Linked DNA regions of Homo sapiens. The protein of the gene in region 2 interacts with the protein of the main gene of each other region in a biochemical or structural test. Each region holds a gene or a part of one and is shown on either strand. Other genes may lie near its edges.

Evidence for each region. Proteins that work in one complex are often made in the same cells at the same time.
Region 1: the proteins of HNRNPD (region 2) and SAFB form a complex in vitro, tested with the Homo sapiens proteins (one study listed by BioGRID).
Region 3: the proteins of HNRNPD (region 2) and IGF2BP2 form a complex in vitro, tested with the Homo sapiens proteins (one study listed by BioGRID and IntAct).

The regions. Positions count from the first base shown.
Region 1 is NC_000019.10:5,661,068-5,668,091, reverse strand, and holds part of SAFB (scaffold attachment factor B1), read right to left. Parts: intron 6,575-7,024; coding exon 6,284-6,574; intron 4,071-6,283; coding exon 3,933-4,070; intron 3,696-3,932; coding exon 3,653-3,695; intron 1,047-3,652; coding exon 928-1,046; intron 746-927; coding exon 642-745; intron 273-641; coding exon 206-272; intron 1-205. UniProt on the Homo sapiens protein: Binds to scaffold/matrix attachment region (S/MAR) DNA and forms a molecular assembly point to allow the formation of a 'transcriptosomal' complex (consisting of SR proteins and RNA polymerase II) coupling transcription and RNA processing.
Region 2 is NC_000004.12:82,363,985-82,371,008, reverse strand, and holds part of HNRNPD (heterogeneous nuclear ribonucleoprotein D0), read left to right. Parts: intron 1-7,024. UniProt on the Homo sapiens protein: Binds with high affinity to RNA molecules that contain AU-rich elements (AREs) found within the 3'-UTR of many proto-oncogenes and cytokine mRNAs.
Region 3 is NC_000003.12:185,822,034-185,829,074, reverse strand, and holds the start of IGF2BP2 (insulin-like growth factor 2 mRNA-binding protein 2), read left to right. Parts: upstream 1-4,032; 5' UTR 4,033-4,114; coding exon 4,115-4,292; intron 4,293-5,661; exon of another isoform or gene 5,662-5,737; intron 5,738-5,861; coding exon 5,862-5,922; intron 5,923-7,041.

The sequences.
Region 1 (7,024 bases), on a different chromosome or scaffold from region 2:
TTCCCTGAGTGTTGCCTGCAGGCAGGGCCCCTTCCTAATGCCCTCCCCTCCTGAGTGGCAGCAGCCTCCACAGTACCCCATGCCTGGCCTCACGTCACCCTTGGGGGGAGGGGCACTAGCTGGAAGGACTTGGTTGTTAAGCCTCCAGCAAGGTAGGCCAATATGCAAAGCAGGGGGAAGGGGCGCCGCCCCCAGCATGCCTTACCCTGACATTCCTCCTCGGTTCATCATGTGGCCAGGCCCGGAGTGACCGGACATGCTTCTCTCGCCACCTGGAAGACAGACGTGCTTTCACACAGGGAACTTGCGCACACGGCGTGGAACCCACGGCACATTTAGCCCACTCCACTCCCTTTGGTGAGGCCCCCAGGTACCCACAACTAGCGGGTCCCAGGAAGACACCTGGGCACAGGGACCATAGACGTCCAGCTTCCTCCCAGCAGAGAGAACTCGGGAACGCCCACTGTCCAACTCCTGGGCCAGACCACCAGAGAGCAGGCGGTGTCTGGAGTGCTCTTCATTCCTCATTCCAGCACTGAGAGCAGAGCACCTCCTGTGCTCCCCCAAGGAGAGAAGGCGCGGCCTCCATCTTTCCATCACTCCCCAGCACATCCTGGTCCCAGCCCAGAGCTGCTCCTCACCTTGCCACCTCTTGTGATCCCTGTCCATCATGCCCCCGTCGGCCGTGCCCTGCCATGACCGGTCATCCTCTCTTCGGCCATGGTCCCCCCAGTCACGTCTGCCCCTTGAAAGAGAGACATCTCTGATTTGGATTGCCCCCATCTCTGGCTCTTGTGCTAATAACTGTGGCGGCTTCTGGAGAGTGAATCCCTCTGTGTTTCCCACCCTGTGCCCACATCCCAGCGACTTGCGGGCCCCCTTGTGGGCGGGGGGGGGGTCAGGTACTGTCGGGTGTGGGACACAAACCTGGGGGGAGGAGGCAGCCCCCGGCCCTCGCTCATCCTCTTGTCAGAGCCATAGCCCCCCCAGCCATCGCGGGAGTCCCGGCCGTGGCGCTCTGGTCCTCCATGGCGTTCTGGGTAATGCTGGACATCACAGAGCCAGAAGGGAAAAAAAAGCTTCAGTGTCAGCGCCCAGACCCCAAGGCTTTTCAGGCAACATGCTAACGATGACAACGACAGTCACTCGGGACAGAAGTGCTGGCAGGCTGTATCGGTTCACACAACACAGCTGCCTTCCTGAAATCTGCAGGCCAGAGGCCCTGTGCCCTAGGCTCATGGCCTGGTACAAAAAAGGTACTAGTACCAAGGCATCTCCAAGGCAGGTCCCCACAGCACCACCAGAGCTGGGAGGGCCACCAGGAGTCACCCACTAAAGATGATGCTTACAAGAGAGATTCCCTGGGTCCCACAGCTCAAATGGTTAGTTCCCAGAGCCAACAGTATTCTCTTACTGTCTTCTACTAAAGAAAGGTCAGGTTTATAAACCTTTAATGTGTGCATATTCTGGAAATAATTTTTACAAATTTCTTCCTTCCACAGTGAAGGAAGTATCAAATGGAGCCCTTCATCCGACCAATTGCTAGGCAAGCATCCTTCCTCACAGTCAAGTTTCTCGGAAGTTTCTGCTGGATGCCCAGTCCAGGGTCTTGCACCTTGCTCTGCTCAGGATATAAGACACAGGACACTGAGAGATAAACGGCTGGCCTTCCACTTGGCTAGTCCCACCTTTCCCTCTTCTGTGTCATTGTTTTTGTAAGCCACGTGGCTAACACAGACCAGGAGTTCTTGACCCTGCTGTTTCAGGGAAGACCAAGAGAGGGCGAGTCACACTCTATGCCTACTTATTTGATGGCCAAGGTTAATATTTACACCCACAGCCTATTTCTGTGGCTGGAAGCACTTTCCAGCCTGACTTTCACAAAAGCTAGTGAGGTAGCTTTGGCTCCACAGTCCTGTTTTTTCTCTTTCCACCAATACATATGTGGTCTCTGGGGTTTTTGCCCCATGACCACATTGTAGGTGAAAGGAAACTAGAAAGGAGTCCTGGTAAGGAAACCCCCTTGACACAGGCTGGTTGTTGTCCATGTCCAAGTTCACCTCCCCGTTCAACGGAGAGCTCTGCCAGGGTGAAGGGAGAGATGGCGGCATGCTCCACCACGTGCACGATGTCCCACGTTACCACTGCCTGCTTCCTGGCCTATCCTCCCAGCATGTGCTCTGATGCCTCCCCTCAACAAAGTAAGAAAAGGGACTCCTGAAATAAGCTCTCCTTAGTATTTGAAAATTGAACCAACATTTTTCTGTCCAACCAACCCACGTAACTGTTCAATGAGGCCCATAAGTTCTGTGCTAGTTTTCTCTGTAGGGAGATGTTACCATTTCCCTTTGGGGTAACTCTGACGACTCATTTATGACTGTGTATGTGAGGAGAAGGGATCAAACCGCGTTCCACTGTTAGGAGAGCATATCTAACACCTTCATGAAAGCAGCTGGTGGCCAGGTGTGCTGGCTCACATCTGTAATCCTAGCACTTTGGGAGGCCGAGGTAGGAGGATCACTTGAGCTCAGGAGTTCAAAACTGGCCTGGGCAACATAGTGAGATCCCGTCTCTATTAAAAAAAAAAAAAAGTAGCTGGCAATGATAAACACGTTTGTACAGATGCGCCCACCTCATGTAAACCCCCACCACCGCACCCTTTGTAGGAGGAATATTACCCTCATTTCACTCCTGGGGAGACAGGCTCAGCAGGAAGGGGTGACACCAAGGTGTGACGCCAGTTCTGATTCTGGAGCCTTTACATGGAACCATTGGTGTATGCTCCTCCACCAAAGAAAATCCACAAGACTAGTTCTACGTTTTGCTGCATATAATTTGCCTCCAGGAGCAGGGAAAAAGGAACCCCACGAGGCTGATGGAATTCCTGAGGATCCCGAGACAGAGCTGAGTACTTGGCTATGCTCAGCCACATTAAGGAACCAAGGGGGACAGAAGCGGGAAGCTTATGGTGGAGTCCAGAAAATGCTGGCAGGAGGAGGAAGGGCTCATGAGTGGAGTCCTCAGAGAGGAGGCATCTTCCACACAGCAATGTGCTGCCCCCAAGTTTATAGGGAAAGCCACTAGAGGTCCAAGGCTCTCCTGGGAAGTCTCAGTCTCAATGTAAGATGGAAGGAGAAAATGGAGCTTATTGTTCTAATGTGCTAGCCCCCGAAGAGAATGAGCACAGACCACAGATCTAGTTGTTTTCCAAGGCTAAGCTGGGCCCTGGGGTGATGAAGGATGTCCTTACTTTCAAAAGAGGGCAGGCACTCGAGGACAGACACAGCAACCACAGCCTCCCCAGATGCACCTGTCTGAGTCAGCTGTGCGGCTCACTAGACACTTCCCAGCAGAGCCAGGTCACATCCCAAGGTTCCCTGGCACTGTTGCACATGTGTGGTGAGTGTGGCACACAGAACCCCAGGGTCAAGGCTAAAAACAGCTTCAGAGTAACTGTTTGGACTGACAGCCAAGACTAACCCCAAATAATCCCAAATTTCCATTCCACAAACCTAGACTTTTCTAGTGCTTTACTTTTCTCTTTCCTCATTTTGCCTCTTGCTCAAAGAAAGGGCAGGAAGAAGGCACGCTGAAGGGAAAAGAACCCATTCTATGGGAAATTCTGTGGCTACCACTGTAGCTTCAGACTTACCTGTCCTTCTCGTTCTCCCATCATTGACCTTGAACCTTCTCTCCTGAAAAGGCAATTTAAATCAAACCGTAAGGGGAAGAAGAGGCTTGTTCACAAAGAGAGGACCATCAGGCCCCCAATGAAAAGCATAATTTCCCTAACTGAAGGCAGGAGACCTGCGGGTCTGACTCAGCATACATCTGATGAACGGAGTGGGTTCAGAGAGCCCAGGAGTCCTTGTTCTCAGTCAGAATGAGCCAGGAAAAAGAAAACCCGCACGCCCAGCAGGGGCCCAACTGACCTGTCCACCGAGTGGTCGGGGTAGCGGCCGCGGTCCCTGTGGTCAAAGTCGTGGAAGCGGTCCTGGCGGTTAAAGTCAGAATGGTAGCGCTCATCCAGGGCGGCCCGCTTGGCTTCCGGCCAATAGGCATCATCTCGCCTGTGAGGGGACATGAGACAGAGATAGAGGGATCCCCCACCCCAAATGTATCTATCACCTTTGTGGGAGCTGGCCCCTAGCACTTCACAGAACCAGGATGACTTTCACCAAGAGTGTTCTCTCCTATAGGAGGCAAGGTCTGATTTGACCCCAGTGACTGCACAGTTGTTTTGTTTTGTCCCATGCACCCACCTCCCCTGATGAAAAGCGGCCTCGGTTTTCCAAAGAGGGAGCCATTAGTTAAGCAGTCAGTCCTATGGGCTGCCTGCAGATGGCTTCTGGAGCCCTACACAGCCACCTCCGCTCAGGAAGACCACGTGAGCCTCCACCCCGAGGGGCTCTGTCAAGTGCACCTGCCATCTCTCTCGCCCCAAAGCTGACCTCCTGCCCTGCCAGCAGCCCTGGCCATGTACTGCTGCAATACACAGATGACCATAATGAACTGTCATCAGAAGGATTTCGTACCAAAGCATAATAGATCCTAGAACAGTTTACAAGGCCCTTTATAGAAGTTGCATTGTATATATGACCTGGGCTCCTCTTCAACCCATGCAATAGAAAGAAACAACAAACAGCAATTTTTGCCAGGTTGCAGTGCACGTGTAAAGCCTGACACAATCACTGCTGGAATTACACACCTGACTCCTCACAGCAGCCATGCTCAGCATTTTGTGTTCATACCTCCTCTTCAGTATGTTTGAGAAATTAAAATTAATCTTACTGCCGGGCGTAGTGGCTCATGCCTGTAATCCCAGCACTTTGGGAGGCCAAGGTGGGTGGATCACCTGAGGTCAGGAGTTTGACAGCCTGGCCAACATGGTGAAACCCGGTATCTACTAAAAATGCAAAAAATTAGCCGGGTGTGGTAGCACATGCCTATAATCCTAGCTACTTGGGAGAGTGAAGCAGGAGAATTGCTTGAACCCAGGAGGCGGAAGCTGCAGTGAGCTGAGATCACGCCATTGCACTCCAGCCTGGGCAACGAAAGCAAAACTCCGTCTCAAAAAAAAATTTTTTTTTAATTCTTTATTTCTAGAATAAGCAAAAACAAATTACAATGGATTTAAAAAGCCAGGACAAGGCCGGGGGTGGTGGCTTACGCCTGTAATCCCAGCACTTTGGGAGTCTGAGGTGGGTGGATCACCTGAGGTCAGGAGTTTGAGATCAGCCTGACCAACATGGCAAAACCCCATCTCTACTAAAAAAAACAAAAATTAGCCGGGTGTGGTGGTGGGTGCCTGTAATCTCGAATACTAGGGAGGCTGAGGCAGGAGAATCGCTTGAACCCAGGAGGTGGAGGTTGCAGTGAGCAGCGATCGCGCCATTGCACTCCAGCCTGGGCAACAGAGCGAGACTCTATCTCAAAAAAAAAAAAAAAGGAAAGGGCCTTAAAGGAGGTGCAGTAGGGCACGTGTGGCGCTCTCTACGTGCCTGAGCTTCCCTCCTCAGGAGGTCTGTGCCACCCTTGAACCTGGTTAGTTAACCAGCACTACTTTATCCAGCCTCCTGTCTCTAATTTTTTTTTTTTGAGACCGAGTCTCACTCTATTGCCCAGGCTGGAGTGCAGTGGCACGATCTTGGCTCACTGCAACCTCTGCCTCCTGGGTACACGCGATTTTCCTGCCTCAACCTCCCCAGTAGCTGGGATTACAGGCGCCTGTCACCACGACCAATTTTTTGTATTTTAGTAGAGACGGGGTTCTGCCATGTTGGCCAGGCTGGTCTTCAACTCCTGAGCTAAGGCAATCCGCCCACCCTGGCCTCCCAAAATGTTAGGATTACAGGCGTGAACTAGCGCACCCGGCCTATGCTTCCTTTGAATGAAAGATCTCAAGCTGGCCGGTCGCGGTGGCTCACAGCTGTAATCCCAGCATTTTGGGAGGCCGAGGCAGGTGGATCACGAGGTCAGGAGATAGAGACCATCCTGGCTAACACAGTGAAACCCCGTCTCTACTGAAAATACAAAAAAATTAGCCGGGAGAGGTGGCAAACGCCTGTAGTCCCAGCTACTCGGGAGGCTGAGGCAGGAGAATGGTGTGAACCCGGGAGGCAGAGCTTGCAGTGAGCCAAGATCGGGTCACTGCACTCCAGCCTCCGCGACAAAGCAAGACTCCGTCTCAAAAAAAAAAAAAAAAATCTCAAGCTAACTGGACTGTGAGGTCCCTAACACGATTCTGAACGCCACGTGCTAAGGGCAGCATGGATCTGCTTACCGGTCCAGGTCGTAGGGCCGCCGCACCGCGGGCCGCCGCTCCTGCTCATAGCGCAGTTCCTGCTGGCGCCTCAGCTCCTCGCGCTCACGGTGGATGCGCTCCTGCTCGCGCCTGCGCTCGTGCTCCACGTGCATGCGTTCGCGCTCCAGCCGTTCCCGCTCCATGCGCTCCCGCTCCAGCCGCTGGCGCTGGAAGGCCAGCCTCTCTCGGGCAATCTCCAGCCGCTCACGCTCCTCGCGCTCCCACTGCGCCTGCATGCGTTGTTCGCGTTCACTGCGTTCACGCACCCTGCTGCACAACAGTAGAGCTGCAGAAGGGGACCTAGACACCCCCAGCCAGGTCCCAGGGCTGACTTTAAGTAAGACGCTGGGTCGCACAGACTCCAGGGCTGTGCGTCCACTACGTGGTCTGCAGAACCGTACACTCCAGCGGGAAGAAGGCTTCTCGGGCCCACAGGAGCAGCCCAGGAAGATCTCAGGAGTGAGGCCCAGGCTGTGTGTGTGTGATCAGAACTGGGCCTCCTTTCTCCAACATTTCCTGGAGCTTGACAAGTGATTTCAGGAAACAGCCAGTCAAAAATAAGCAACAGGCCGGGCGCGGTGGCTCACATCTGTAATGCCAGCACTTTGGGAGGCTGAGGTGGGTGGATCATGAGGTCAAGAGATCGAGACCAGCCTGGCCAACATGGTGAAACTCTTGTCTCTACTAAAAATACAAAAATTAGCTGGGCATGGTGGCACG
Region 2 (7,024 bases):
GAAGTGTGTGTGTGTGTGTGTGTGTGTATATATATACCATTAAAAGGTGGGCTAATGTGGCTTTCCACTACAGCTCTTACCAGATTTTTTATTTTCAGTGTGATTTGGCTGGAATATTAATAACAGTTGGTTGACATGTATTCACAATTGCATGACTTCTCTTTGGAGGCTGGTAGGTTGAGTATTGTTCTTTTTATCCATCCTTTCCCCTCCCCTAAATGTCAGTCTTTCTGCTTTTAGGATTATATTTGAATTTTCAGGGGTTTATACACCACCACTGGAGAGTAGAAGGCCACTAACTTGCAGGCAGTTAACTTATATCTTTACAAGCTACATTCTATTTTAAGAGCCTATTTAGGGTAACATTTAAAGATTTGCTTATCACTGTATTCTCATCCACTGAAATCAGTCCAGCTTTACCTTGGAGAAAAAGCAGATGGGAAACAGGCAAGGGGAAAAGCAAAAAAGAGGAAAAAAAAAAGACTGGGGTCACAGTTTCGATGAATGTTATTCCCTGTATTTGGTGAGTGGTGGGCACTAGCAGCTCAATTTCACTGCTAGCTAATAGTGGCAAATTAAGATTAAACTATAAACTATTTGACATTACTCCATTATGTATTTTGAGTCTCATGTAATTGTTTCCAGTGATTTGAAATGACCATAAACTTAAATTTGAAGGTCAGTGTTTTGACTCTTCGAAGTAATTACACTTGACCTGCTACCTAAAACGATGTAATATTACAACTTTTTTGAATAATCTCAGGAAAAATGGAGAAATGTTTATATTCATAGTTAATAAACATTCTAGATAGTAACCAACTGTCATTTACTGAAAATAAAATTTTACCCAGGTTTATTTTATTTTTGAGACGGAGTTTAGCTTTTGTTGCCCAGGCTGGAGTGCAGTGGTGTGATCTTGGCTCAGCGCAACCTCCACCTCCCAGGTTCAAGCAATTCTCCTGCCTCAGCCTCCAAAGTAGTTGGGATTACAGGCATATTCCACCATGCCTGGCTAATTTTGTATTTTTAGTAGAGACAGGGTTTCTTCATGTTGGTCAGGCTGGTCTCGAACTCCCGACCTCAGGTGATCCGCCTGCCTCGGCCTCCCCAAGTGCTGTAATCACAGGCGTGAGCCACTGCGCCCGGCCTAGCCAGGTTGATTTTAAAATTACACTTAAAAATAATGTTCTCATTTTTAAGGGCTCTAATATTTGACTTTTCTTAACTTTCCAATTATGCAGCCCTATCCTGTTCCAGACGTTAAGGCTTTCTTTTTGAATGAAAAACTTTCAGACTTTTTTCTCTCTCTTTTTTTTTTTTTGGTGTCTGCACTCCCCACCGTATCTGTCCCTTCCTCTTTCTCCCATTTTGAGGGATATTATAAGGGCAACAGTTTTATAGTCTCAATATTGAGGGTAAGACTGGTTAATAGAGTATCCAAATTGAATTTATTAAACACAGTTCTGTGTGCATTTCCTTCTGCAAATCTGAGAATAAAGTGATTACAGTTTCATCCTAAAATACTTTAAAAATCAGTTGGTTTTAGAAATAGGTTTTTTTCCTTTTGCATGTAAGAATGGACAGCTATTTTTAGGAAGGCATGCCTGTTACACCTCTAGTGGATGTTTCTACAGTTTACTATGGGACTTTAGAATAAGTAATTATTTCCATAGTATGCCCTCCTGAGTTCACTTTGATTTACTCTTTCCCACATTAACATCCGTAGTTTTTACTTATAAGCATTGGAATTTCTCATTTTACTTTGTGGTGTGGACCCATTCTGTTCTCTGCAGTGCTGCAGTTCATTTGGGGTAGGTACTTTAAAATTATTTAGTGTCTGGCAAAATATACATGCCATGTAGCAAGCTCTCTGAGGGCAGAGTTTTTAAAGTTTAAAAATCAATGGAAACTACAATGTTGTGTTAACTTTGAGATAGTTTTACAAGGTAGGTACATAGACTTTCCTGCATTGGATTGGGTAGGAAGCAAAAAAGTCCCCCCATTCACTTAGCCAAAGTCCAGCAATGCTTCTTTAATAACAGGACAGTAGATATTGTCCTGTTAATGGTTAGTGTATAATGAGCCCAAGTGTGATTCTTCCCATTTGGGAATTCTGTGAATCCTGCTGTAGGTTGTTGCCTGTCTGATTATAAAAGACTAGGCTCATGTTTTTGCTTTAAATGTTTGAGATTATGGTCTTATACCTTAGTGCTTCTGGGGCAATCTGAACATTGTTTGCTTTGTAAAATAATTTCTTTTAGAGTAGTCTCATGCCAAATTTACTGGCCTTTGATTCAGTACAGTTGGGTTTACTGTATGTAGTAAAGTTGAGACCCTGCGTAGATTGGTCTCAGTGTTAGCATTCTTGGGAGCCTTTGACAAATTTCCCGAGTTAAAAATTCCAGAAATTGATGTCCCCAGATCTTTAGATGAACATTTAAGCGAAGAGTATTAAATACTTCTCACTGTAAATTTTCATCTATTATGAAAGATACTAAAAATAATCTCGTTTTTTAAGTTTGGAATTGGGAGAATGTCATTGAAGTTTTTCAGTGCTTGTTTTTGAGATACACATACTTTGCCTTAAATCTGGGGTTTTTTCCCTTAAGCCATGTGACCCTTTCTACAAACTCAGTGTATGTTTTTAATATTTCCTGGGTACTCTGCTATCGTCCTAATACATAATATTAGGGTAAGGCTGCCCTAATACGAGAACATTTTGAGTATACTATTGAGTATACATTTGAGTATACATATTGAGTATACTATTTATGCCAACGTGAAGGATGTGATTAGTTTTAGCCTTCAAGTCATAATACATACCATGCTTGAAAGCATTTAAAAAGGAATAGAGTAATTTTTTTTCCCATTCCACTTGGAAGCTGTGTACCTCAAGTGTGTGCACATTTACAAATGGGTGAAACATAACTTATGTTAGTCCAAGCTTGATTTGACTTCAGTTCTGCTTCAACGTTTTAGTAGATAGGGCACTGAACTGGATGCTGAAAGCGTGGGATCTCTTTCTGTTGCTTCACTTCCAACAGTGTGGTTTCAGGTAATACGACATGTTTGTTACTTGGTTTGCTGATCTATGTGTTGGAAACAATGCTCACCACAGGAGGATTGACTACATAGCCTGCTTTCATAGCTTGTGTGTATTTATCCAGTGCCCTAATAGTTGATACTGCCAGTGATTTACTCCTGTGGAGTAAAGGTAAGCATGTTTTAGTTTCTGGAGTATTATATTGTACGTTGGAGCTAGGTATTTAAGAATATTTGGGGGTGGGGAGGGAAGACTCCAATTTACTGGTGGTGCTTGGCCAGTAATCAAGGTGACAGTTTAAGTATTGGGTCTTGCACTGTAAACTCCTGCTTATCTAGACTTCAGACTACCACAGAGCCCACACAGCCAGGAAGTCTGTCTCCCCATTTAGTCTTATGAGCAAGATAGATGAAGCCATGAGAAAATATACTCAAAAAGCAACCAACAGACAATGTCATGGAATGAATCTCCTACAGATTTTTCCTTACACTTTTGAAAAGTAACATGATTTTAAAACGTTGGAAAATTCATCAAGGTACAAATCATTTTCTGACTTCAGCATTGATACCTAAATTGATTTCCAGTACACAGTTTTATAGAATTGTGAATATGTAGTAATCTCAGTTAACCAGAACCTTAACCTTCAGGTTAAGGAAAATACCTATTCCTTAACCTCTAGGTAAATGGGAGTTTACCTTACAAAGCTGATTGAGAGCTTATTTAAAACGTAAACATACAAGATGTCATTGCTTCCTTGTAGTGAAGTGAAAAGGAGGTATTGGATTAAGCATTTAAAGTTAATTAAAGTAGTGGCTCGTGCCTGTAATCACTGGCTACTCAGAAGTCTTGAGGTATGAGGATCATTTCATGCCAGGATTTCTAGACCAGCTAGGCAACATAATATGACCCCTGTTTCTTTAAAAAAAAAAAAAAAAAAAAGGCTAGTGTGTTGGGGGGTGTGTTTGTAGTTGTAGTTACATCTACTCAGGAGGCAGAGGCAGGAGAATGTGTTGAGCCCAGGAAGGAGCTCAGGGCTGCAGGAAGCTATGATGGAGCCACTGCATTTTGATAGTGAGACCTGGTCTCTTAAAGTGTTTTATTTTTAGGCCAGGCGTAGTGGCTCACACCTGTAATCTCAGCACTTTGGGAGGCCAAGATGGGTGGATCACCTAAGGTCAGGAATTGGAGACCAGCCTGGCCAACATGGCGAAACCCCAGCTCTACTAAAAATACAAAAATTAGCCAGGTGTGGTTACATGCGCCTGTAGTCACTCAGGAGGCTGAGGCGGGAGAATCACTTGAACCCTGGAGGCGGAGGTTGCAGTGAGACAAGGTTGCACCACTGCATTCCAGCTTGGGCAACAGAGCAAGACTCCGTCTCAAAAAAAGAAAAAAAAAGTTTATTTAAAAAACTGTCATGTTGGCCGGGCGCGGTGGCTTATGCCTGTCATCCCAGCACTTTGGGAGGCTGACGCAAGCGAATCACCTGAGGTCAGGAGTTCGAGACCAACCTGGCCAACATGTTGAAACCCTGTCTCTACTAAAAATACAGAAATTAGCCGGGCATGATGGTGGGCATCTGTAGTCCCATCTACTTGGGAGGCTGAGGCAGGAGAAGAGCTTGAACCCGGGAAGCAGAGGTTGCAGTGAGCCAAGATCGCGCCACCGCACTCCAGCCTGGGCGACAAAGCGAGACTCTGTCCCCCTCCCAAAAAAACTGTCATGTTTCATTTATTAGATGTTTATTTTTTCAACTTCGCTTTTTAGTAGTCATTTAGTTAGGTTCATTCTAAAGTGTGAAGTAATGAGATTTAATACAGAGAAGTCTCTGAAAATGTTTGGTCCATTGTATATTAGTCTTGAATAAATGGAATTCTTTTTCACACTTACCTTGAAAATGTCATCTGTAGAAAGCTGGGGGAGAGGAATACCTATTCTTTAATGATGGGGAAATAATACCAAAATTTATATTTTTATTGACTAAAGTGTTTTTTGGGGAAGATTTGTTATTGGCTAACCTTAATGTCTCATTAGTTTTAAATAGTTAAAAAAAGTGGGCTGGGTGCGGTGGCTCACGCTTGTAATATAGCACTTTGGGAGGCTGAGGTGGGCAGATTGAACCCAGGAGTTCCAGACCAGCCTGGGCAACATGATGAGATCCTGTCTCTACAAAAAAAAAAAAAAAAAAAAAAAATTAGCTGGGCCTCGTGGTGTGCACCCATAGTCTCAGCTACCCAGGAGCTTGAGATGGGAAGATTGCTTGAACTTGGGAGGCAGAGGTTGAAGTGAGCCAGGATCACACCATTGCACCACAGCCTGGCAATAGAGCGAGACTCTGTCTCAAAAAAGTGGTTTTCATGAATTTTATACCAGATCAGATCTAAAAAGGCTGGTTAGTATTTGAACTCGATGAAAGCTTGTCAAGCTCTCTCCCAAGGTAGTTTTCATACAACTTGTAAAATACCCTAACGTGTGATATTATCTAGTTGCATTGTAACCTCCTCCCTTCCCCTTAGGTAACTAGTGACTTAGCTTTAGTTTGTCATTTTAGGATTTTAGAAGAATAATTATGATGGATAAAATACTGGAAAAATTCAGTAAGGATTTAATGGTGTGCTTGAGTAACATTACTTTAAAAGATGACAGTGATTGGTCATTTATGTTTTATACCTGAAATGTATATCAGGTTGACATTCTGTTGTATTTTTTAAACTGTCAGAACTTGTTATAAAGCCATGTATGTAAGATCATAAGTTGTTAGGAAGTGTTTAAAAGTTAAAGGATTGGCTGGGTGTGGTGGCTCATGCCTGTAATCCTAGCACTTTGGGAGGCTGATCGCTATGTCCAGGAGTTCTGTGACTAGCCTGGGTAACAGAGCAAGATCTCGTCTCTAAAAAAGTAAAAATAATACGAAGTTATAGAACATAGAAAAAGAATACTATTCCAAAATTGGGAGTGAGTATAATGGCTAACTTTTTACCTTGAATAAGGTGTTTGACAATAAAGACTTATTAGGGGAGGTATCTTGGAATAAAATAGTTAATATTGACTGGGAATGTTAAAAACCTAGTGACCTAAATAGTCCAGAGAATAAGTTTATTGATGGGGAAAAGCCAGGATTATTAAATCGGAACATTTTCCACCAGCCAGGATTGCTCCATGTATATTTCCTTTTATGTTTTAAATTATTCTTTACTAAAATTACTGGCATAAATGTAGGGTAGACCAAGTCATCAAGGTGATTTTGGAAGCTACATTTAAAGGGTCTTAGTTGAAATACCACCTAATTTTTAGTTTATATATTTTTTTACATGGACTATTTAAAAATTTCTGGGTTATTTCAAGTTGGCAGCATTGAAAATATTAGAATATGTTTATATAAAACTCATTGTGGCCTTTTCCTTTTAATGTTGGAAAGTTTATAAAGCCTATGCAGTTTTAAAAAATTAAGCCATTGAGTAAATAAAAAGTTTGCTTTATTAAATTATGTTTAGATAGTGCTTATAGTGCTTTACCCCTTCAAAATAGTAACTTCTATCAATCATTTAGGATGTGTGTCAGACTATTCTGTGTCCTTTAAGTGTGTTAACTAGTTTTAACCCTCTGCAAATATCTGAGGTATGCTCTTTTTACAGATGGGAAAACAATCTTGGACTTTAATATTTTTTCTTAATGTTACACAATTAGTAAGAGGCAGGGGGCCAGGTGGAGTGGTTCATGTTTGGAATTCCAGCACTTTGGGAGGCTGAGGTGGGCAGCTTGAGCCCAGGAGTTGGAAGACTAGCCTGGGCGACATAGTAAAACCTGATCTCTGCAAAAATATTAGCCGGGTGTGTTGGTGGGTGCCTGTAGTCCGAGCTACTGGTGAGGCTGAGGTGGGAGGACCAACTGAGCCCAGGAGGTCAAGGCTGCAATGAGCTGTCATGGAGCCAGTGCACTCCAGCCTGGGAGACAGAGTGAGACCCTGTCTTAAAAAAAGGC
Region 3 (7,041 bases), on a different chromosome or scaffold from region 2:
GGTTATACTGACTACATTATCAGTTGAGCAAAAAAACATTCCGCTATAGCTTTGTAGGTTCAAAAGGATCGCTTGAGCTCAAGAGTTTGAGACCAGCCTGGGCAACACAGTGAGATCCCATCTCTTAAAAAAAATTTTAGCTGGGCATGGTGGCATGCATCTGTAGTCCCAGCTACTCGGGAGACTGAGGTGGGAGGACTGCTTGAGTCTGGAAGTTTGAGATTGCAGTGAGCCATGATCACCCCACCACACTCCAGCCTGGGTGACAGTAAGACTTTTTTTAAAAAAAAAAAAAAAAAAAGAAAAGAAAAAGACTTAACACTTATGAACTCTTTGTTGTTAGACTAAAATGTTTTTTCCAGGTGTGTTTCAGGCCCTCCATGTGATTAAGAAAAAATTATACTTTCCTGAGCTTCAGTTTTCTTACCTGAAAAGAAGGATTAAGAAAGCTTGTCCCAGCCACCTTATCACTGTCTTGCCCAAAAGAATCGCTGGGAAACAATGAGGATCTGTACTGCCTTTGAAACTCTTGAGGAAAACATTAGTTAATTCATGCTTTAAAAGGTAATATGCCTACTATAAGATTTTCTCCAAATTTCTGACCTCTGTTAAACATTCATAAAATCTTGGCTTATCAGGTGTAAACCAAGTCTAGATCAATCAAGATGGTCTCTGTTTCAGCTCTCTGGGGGAGGGATAAGTAGGGGAACTCGAGAGAAAACAGGTAGAAAATAAGTTTTGCCTGGCAGGAGCAAGGCCTCTGAATTTCTGACTTTGCACTTGGAGGCTGTCCCCTATTGTCTTCAAAGGTCCCCAACCCCTTCTCTATCATGTGAAAAATAACTCTGCATTCTAAGATAAGGCACTGTAGATGCTGCAAACCAGGGGTGTAGTGGAAGCATGCCCTCCATCACACTTACAGTTCAAGCCCTCCTTCTGCAGCCCTGCTGTTTCCAAAATTCCAGCAGGACAGCTGACAACTGCAGCAAAGAGCAATTATTTCTCTGAAAAAAAAAATTTCAAAGTGACTTGGTGAAGCAGGGTAAGAAGAGTTCACCAGAAGCCACCTGATAGGGTTCGGCTGTGTCCTCACGCAAATCTCATTTTGAAACGTAACTCCCATAATTCCCACATGTCATGGGCGGGACCCGGTGGGAGGTAACTGAATCATGGGGGTGGGTTTTTCCCATGCTGTTCTTGCAATAGTGAATAAGTATCACGAAATCTGATGGTTTTATAAAGGGCAGTTCCCCTGCACACGTGCTCTTGCCTGCCCCCATGTAAGATGTGCCTTTGCTCCTCCTTCACCTTCCGCTATGAGGAGGCCTCCTGGGCCGTGTGGAACTGTGAGTCCATTAAGCCTCTTTTTCTTTATAAATTACCCAGTCTTGGGCATTTCTTCAGAGCAGTATGAAAATGGACTGATACACCACCTCTGCCAAGAATCTGTACATTGTCTAATGTGTTTTTCGTCTCACAGTAAGACCAAATAATTGATGTATCTAAAATGCTACACAACAACAACAACAACAACAAGTTTTTCTGACCTGTTGGAGAGGAATGAGGCCAACTATTCCTGCCACTCTCGTTTCTCCTTTACATGTACCTGTGAATAATAAGCAAATATGCTGTCCTATAATATAAAGGTGACCATATCAATTAGGAGCACATGTGTAAATAATCTAAAGATGGTTAGTTCAGTCTGCTGAGGTTTATGCATGCACAAGTCATGTTCATTTGTGATTCTCTGATACAATTTAGTAAAGAAGCATCCACACCTAGTTTATCTATTACTTTGGGGATTAGTAACCAAGTTCATTCTCAACTCCTGGAGCAGTAAAATCCGATTCTTTTTCTAGAGAGAGAAAAAAATATGTGAATACTTGAGACAAAAGCCAGAATTCAAATAACTGCAAATATCTAGGTGAAAATGGATTCATTACTTTCTCCTCTGGATACCTAATTAGTTAAGAAGATCTCCTTCTGTAGAATAAAGTATTTTAAAAGTTCATGAATTCCTGGGGGAAAGAAGAGAAACAGGCATTAAGTGTCTGACCACCCATGTCTCAACACGCTAGGCAGTTATCCTTCTTGTAGCCCTCACAACAGCCCTGCGAGGACTGGTTATTTTATCTCCTTATAGATGAAGAAACTTAGGCTCGAGAATGCTGGAACATCTCAGGGCACAAAGATGGGGGCAGAGAGAAGGTCTGAGTCCGGGGCAGATAGGCCTTCCACTCCAACAGTGTTTACCAGACCAGAATCACCTGGGAGTACTTGCGGAAAATACAAAATCCAGCAAGCCCCATTCTCTCCACGCCGCTCATCAACAGGAAAGCTTGGGAAAGACAATACTACTTCACGACCCAGTCAGGAGACCCGAACTTGTTCCATTCCTACATTCGTGACTTCTCCACCCAAGGACACTCCCCGCACCCGCGCCCCAACGCCTTCACAAAACCCAACATATCCGCGATCAAACCTTCAACTCTCCCAGTGGCCCCCAGAGGTCCAGAGCTTGGAATCTTCTTCTGCCTCCTCACCTCTGAATCCCGCCATTCTTCTCCCTCCTGTAGAATTTCATTTCCTGGCTGGGACCAGGCTCTAACCATCAGGCTTCCAGCCGGGCCCCGGAACTTGCAGCCCGCTCTAGCCTGTCTGGCTCCTGCCCGAGCCCCTCGGCTCCAGCCTGCTCTCATCCCAACCCTGCCTCTTCCGTCGGTCACGTTGTTTCCTCCGCTTGGAAGGACCTCTTTCCTCTCCGGGCCCTTCCCAGTGCTCGGGGAACTCCTACACAGCCTGCGCTCCTCCGCTTCCAGCCACCCTCGCCTCCCACCACCCTGGCTTTGGAGCTGAACCGGCCGCGCAGCCGGGCGGCGACCATCCGTCCCCCGGCCGCTGACCCCAGCGCTCCGGCCTCGCCGCAGTCCCTGGCCCCTCGGCGTTCGTTTCCCCACCCGCCACCTGGCTTTCGCCGCCGCCGCCCGGGAAGCCCTCGGCACTTCCCAGAATAGAGAGCAGCTGCCAACGTCAGGCTGCCGCCTGCCGCGGGGTTCCGGACACGCGGGGTCTGGGCGGAGAGGACGTGACTCCGCGCTGGCCTTCCGCCTTCCCTCCCCGGTCGGGAAACTGAGGCCCGGGACCGGGAACCACTTCCCCGCGAGCACGGTCCGCGAGGGCCCGGCCAACCCCGGTCCTAGGCGTCCCGACTCCCGCGCGCGATCCTTCGACCACACGCGCCGCTCGGTCACCTCAGAGAGCGTGGCGGGGAGCGGGTCTCAGAGCGAGCGCACGGCCCGGGAACGCGCAGGGCGCCAGCCCCGGCCAAGTCGCTGCGAAAGTTGTTGTCTCCCAGCCTGCCCTCGCCTCTCACCTCCGGGACACACCTTCCCGCTTGCCCTGGCAGCAGCGCACTCACATCCGGTCCACCTTGCGCACACCCCTCTCCGCGCTCACTCGCAGCCCCTCTCCCTCCCACGCCCGCGGCTCCCCGTCGCCCCCTCGCGCGCTCCCACCCGCGCCCGGGGCGCGCCTTCCCCGCCCCGCCGCTCGCCCGGCCTCGGCGCCGCGCCCGCCCGGGGTTCCGGCGCCCGGAGCCCCAGCCCGGGGCCGCGACCCGCTTCCGCCCGCCTGGCGCGGGGCCGGAGCCCGAGCAGCCACTGCCGAGCGCGGTGGGCGCGAGGCGAGGGGCGCAGCGGCGCGGGGCGGGGAGGGGGCGCTCGCTCGCTCCCTCTCGGCTGCGCACACGCCCGTACAAACTCTCACACAGACACACGCGGGGTGCGCTGCCGCCGCCCGCCGCTGCTCCTCCTCCCGCCACCGCCTTGAGAGGGAGAGAGAGGGAGGCAGAGAGAGCGCTTTGTCCGCGCGCCGCCGCCCGGCCCGGGACTCTGCCCCGAGGAGGCAGCCGCGCCGAGTCCCCGCCTCCGCCTCTGCCCCCGGGCGGGCCGGGCCGGCCGCGGTGGGGGGAGCCAGGCTGAGGGTGGGGGTGGGTGGCGGGCGGGCGGAGGGCGGGGAGGGGGGGCGGAGGAGGAGGAGAGACGAGGGCAGCGGAGGAGGCGAGGAGCGCCGGGTACCGGGCCGGGGGAGCCGCGGGCTCTCGGGGAAGAGACGGATGATGAACAAGCTTTACATCGGGAACCTGAGCCCCGCCGTCACCGCCGACGACCTCCGGCAGCTCTTTGGGGACAGGAAGCTGCCCCTGGCGGGACAGGTCCTGCTGAAGTCCGGCTACGCCTTCGTGGACTACCCCGACCAGAACTGGGCCATCCGCGCCATCGAGACCCTCTCGGGTGAGCACTCAGCGCGGCCCCCTCCCCCCGCCTCGCCCCGCTCAGGCCGGGACGGCGCCGGGAGGGAGGCCGAGTCCGGCGGGCGGCGCCCGGCGGCGGCTCCCGCGCCCGCACGCTCACTTCCACGCACCAGACCCTCAACTCTCGCCGCCGGCCCGCTCCTGGGACGGCCCGCTCCCCTCCCCCCACAGCTCTGGACTCTGCCCTCGCCCTCGGGGCCGCAGCCTTGGGGCGCCCCCCGTGCCGCTCCGAAGGCTCCCGAGGCTCGCCGGCTCCTTAGGGGCACCCCTCGTTCGCCTGGCGCCCCGGGCTGCTCTGAGCTTCCCCGCCCCCCACCCTTTGAGCGTCCCCTGTCTCACTTCTCCCCTGACCTTCCTGTCACCCCCTTTGTCAGGGTCCCCCCTTCCCCAAATCCAGCGTCTCTTCCTCCTCCCCCGGCCGGACCTTCTCTCTTCCAGTGCCTCGTGCCCAGAACCTCTCGCCCTCTGGCGTCTCCTGAGCCGCACTCTCCTTTCGAGCCCCCTCCCCACCTCGCCCCACGGCCCCCCACTTTTGGCACCCCCTCGGCGCCACCCTGGTGACCCCCTTCGAGATCTCGGGGCTCCCCCAGCCCCAGCCCTCGCACGACGGCACATCCCCTCGGTCCTTTCCCGAACCTCAGTCCCCTCTCGCTTGCTCTCTCAAGCGCTCCTATTTTTCTCTGAATTTTTTGTCCGATTTTATTGAGAAGAACTCGGGGCTGGGGGCTTTCCGCCGCCCGTCCCCCCGCCTCCCGCTCGGCCAGAAGCACCTTTTTACGAGGTGCCCTGTCTCAACTCGGTGGGGGCCAGGGTTGAGAACCGGGAAAGAGGCGACCGGGGGGCCCGCGAGCGCGCTGGAGCCCAGACAGGAGACGGAGAGCGACACACACACACACTCGCGCGCGCGCACTCCCCAACTCTCCCCAGCACACGCTCCGCTCCCAGCCGCGCGGGCCCCCGGGCCCCGGCCGGCGCCCCCCGAACCCCGGCCCGGCGGGAGCCCCTTCCCCACCGGCGTGTGGAGTGGGGGCGGGGCGGCGGCGAGGCCAAGGTGACACCCAGGAGCGGGCAGGGACAGGGCTGTCGCTGCGGCGGACTCCGGGGGGCTTCGGCTCGTTTTCTCGGGGCCACCGGGAGGAGAGGGCAGGGAGGGGAGCCCGGTGGAGCCTTCGGGCCCCGGATTAGCGGAATGGAGAGGTGGGGGCCGGGAGAGCAGCGGGGCCGCGCCAGCCCTGCAGCTTGAGTTTCAAATGAGCTCATCCTTTCAAATTGGCGCCGCTCTTTATTAAATTTGTTTTTCCGGTAATGCCACCCACGGCTATACCTGGGGTCCGACCCGGGCTCGCACCCTCCTCGCCTTGTCCCGAGACACGGGGCGCCCACCTTTCTTTCTACTGGGAACCAAGTTCGCCCAGCTCGATCCGGGTAGGAGACCCCTTGGGGGCGCCCGAAGGCGGAGCCCGAGCGTGGAGTTCCGTGCGTGCCCCCCCTAGACCCCCGCGGGCTTGATCTAAGCAAGGTTCTGAGTGCTTTAATTTCTGTTTTAAAGGTAAAGTGGAATTGCATGGGAAAATCATGGAAGTTGATTACTCAGTCTCTAAAAAGCTAAGGTAAATATACTTTGCTTAGTTTTTTTTTTGCGATTGGCCTTACGTATAAGTAAAAAACGTACACACAGCTTTAAAAAACGTGCTCTTGGTAGTTTTTAAAGGGGCTTTTGTTTGTTTTGTTAGTGGAGATACATAGTTTAGAAAGCTACTTTTTTTTTTTTTACTTTCATTATATAAGGTGTTTACTGTTCTTGGAAAATATCTGGTGCCTAATTGGGGGTCGGGGTGGCGAACACCAGCTATGTTCAGTTCGCTGGGACCCTGTAACTTGTTTATCAAAAATTGCCTCCCACCCCCACCTCCCGCCCCTACCCCCAGCAGAATAGCAGCAAATGCTTGTCAAGACTTCCTGTGAGATGTGAAGAGTAAATATTTACTATGTCAGCTAAATTGCTTAACTAAACTTAGCGATTAATTACTTTTCTCTTTTAGATAGTTTAATGTTGAATAGTAAAATAATTCAGTAAGGGGTCAATATTTTGCATAGCTTTCTAAAGAAGTGGGTTGTTTGGATTGGATGGCAGTTAAAAGCCGGACTTTTTCAGTCACTGAGACTACTGAGTATAGCTTCTGAGCATTTTGTTGTTGTTGCTTGTAAGAAATGTTTGCGGCTAAAATAAATACCCTTGTGAAATCTATAGTTATATTTAAGTGCACTGTTGTTAATGACGGAGTAACAAGTTTTGTGGAGGTTGGATTTCTCCACAGTGATTTGCTAACATGAGAAGAGAAGAGAAAACATCTTTGTTTAAAGTTTATTGTGGACTTTAAATTTGGGCCCTTTATTACTCATTCTAAATTTTTTTCTTCTGCTGTGTGTCGAAACTTAGTTTATATCCCATTCACATACATTTCTTCACCATTAGTCATTAAGTAGCTGGACTGGAGCTGTTCAATGAAGTTTTTGATGACCACCTTTACAGTTTATCAGTCAATAGTTTAACCACCTGATTTTTGTCAGGATTGAGTAGATTTTAAAACAAACTACCCTAATTTTATAAATACTTAGATGTGTTGCTGAAGGGATTTTTAAAAATTGTGTGCCACATTTCCAGATATGTTTTATTTTAAGTAAGCAACAGAATAACTTTTGTTTGCAAATAATCTCTGTGGCATATG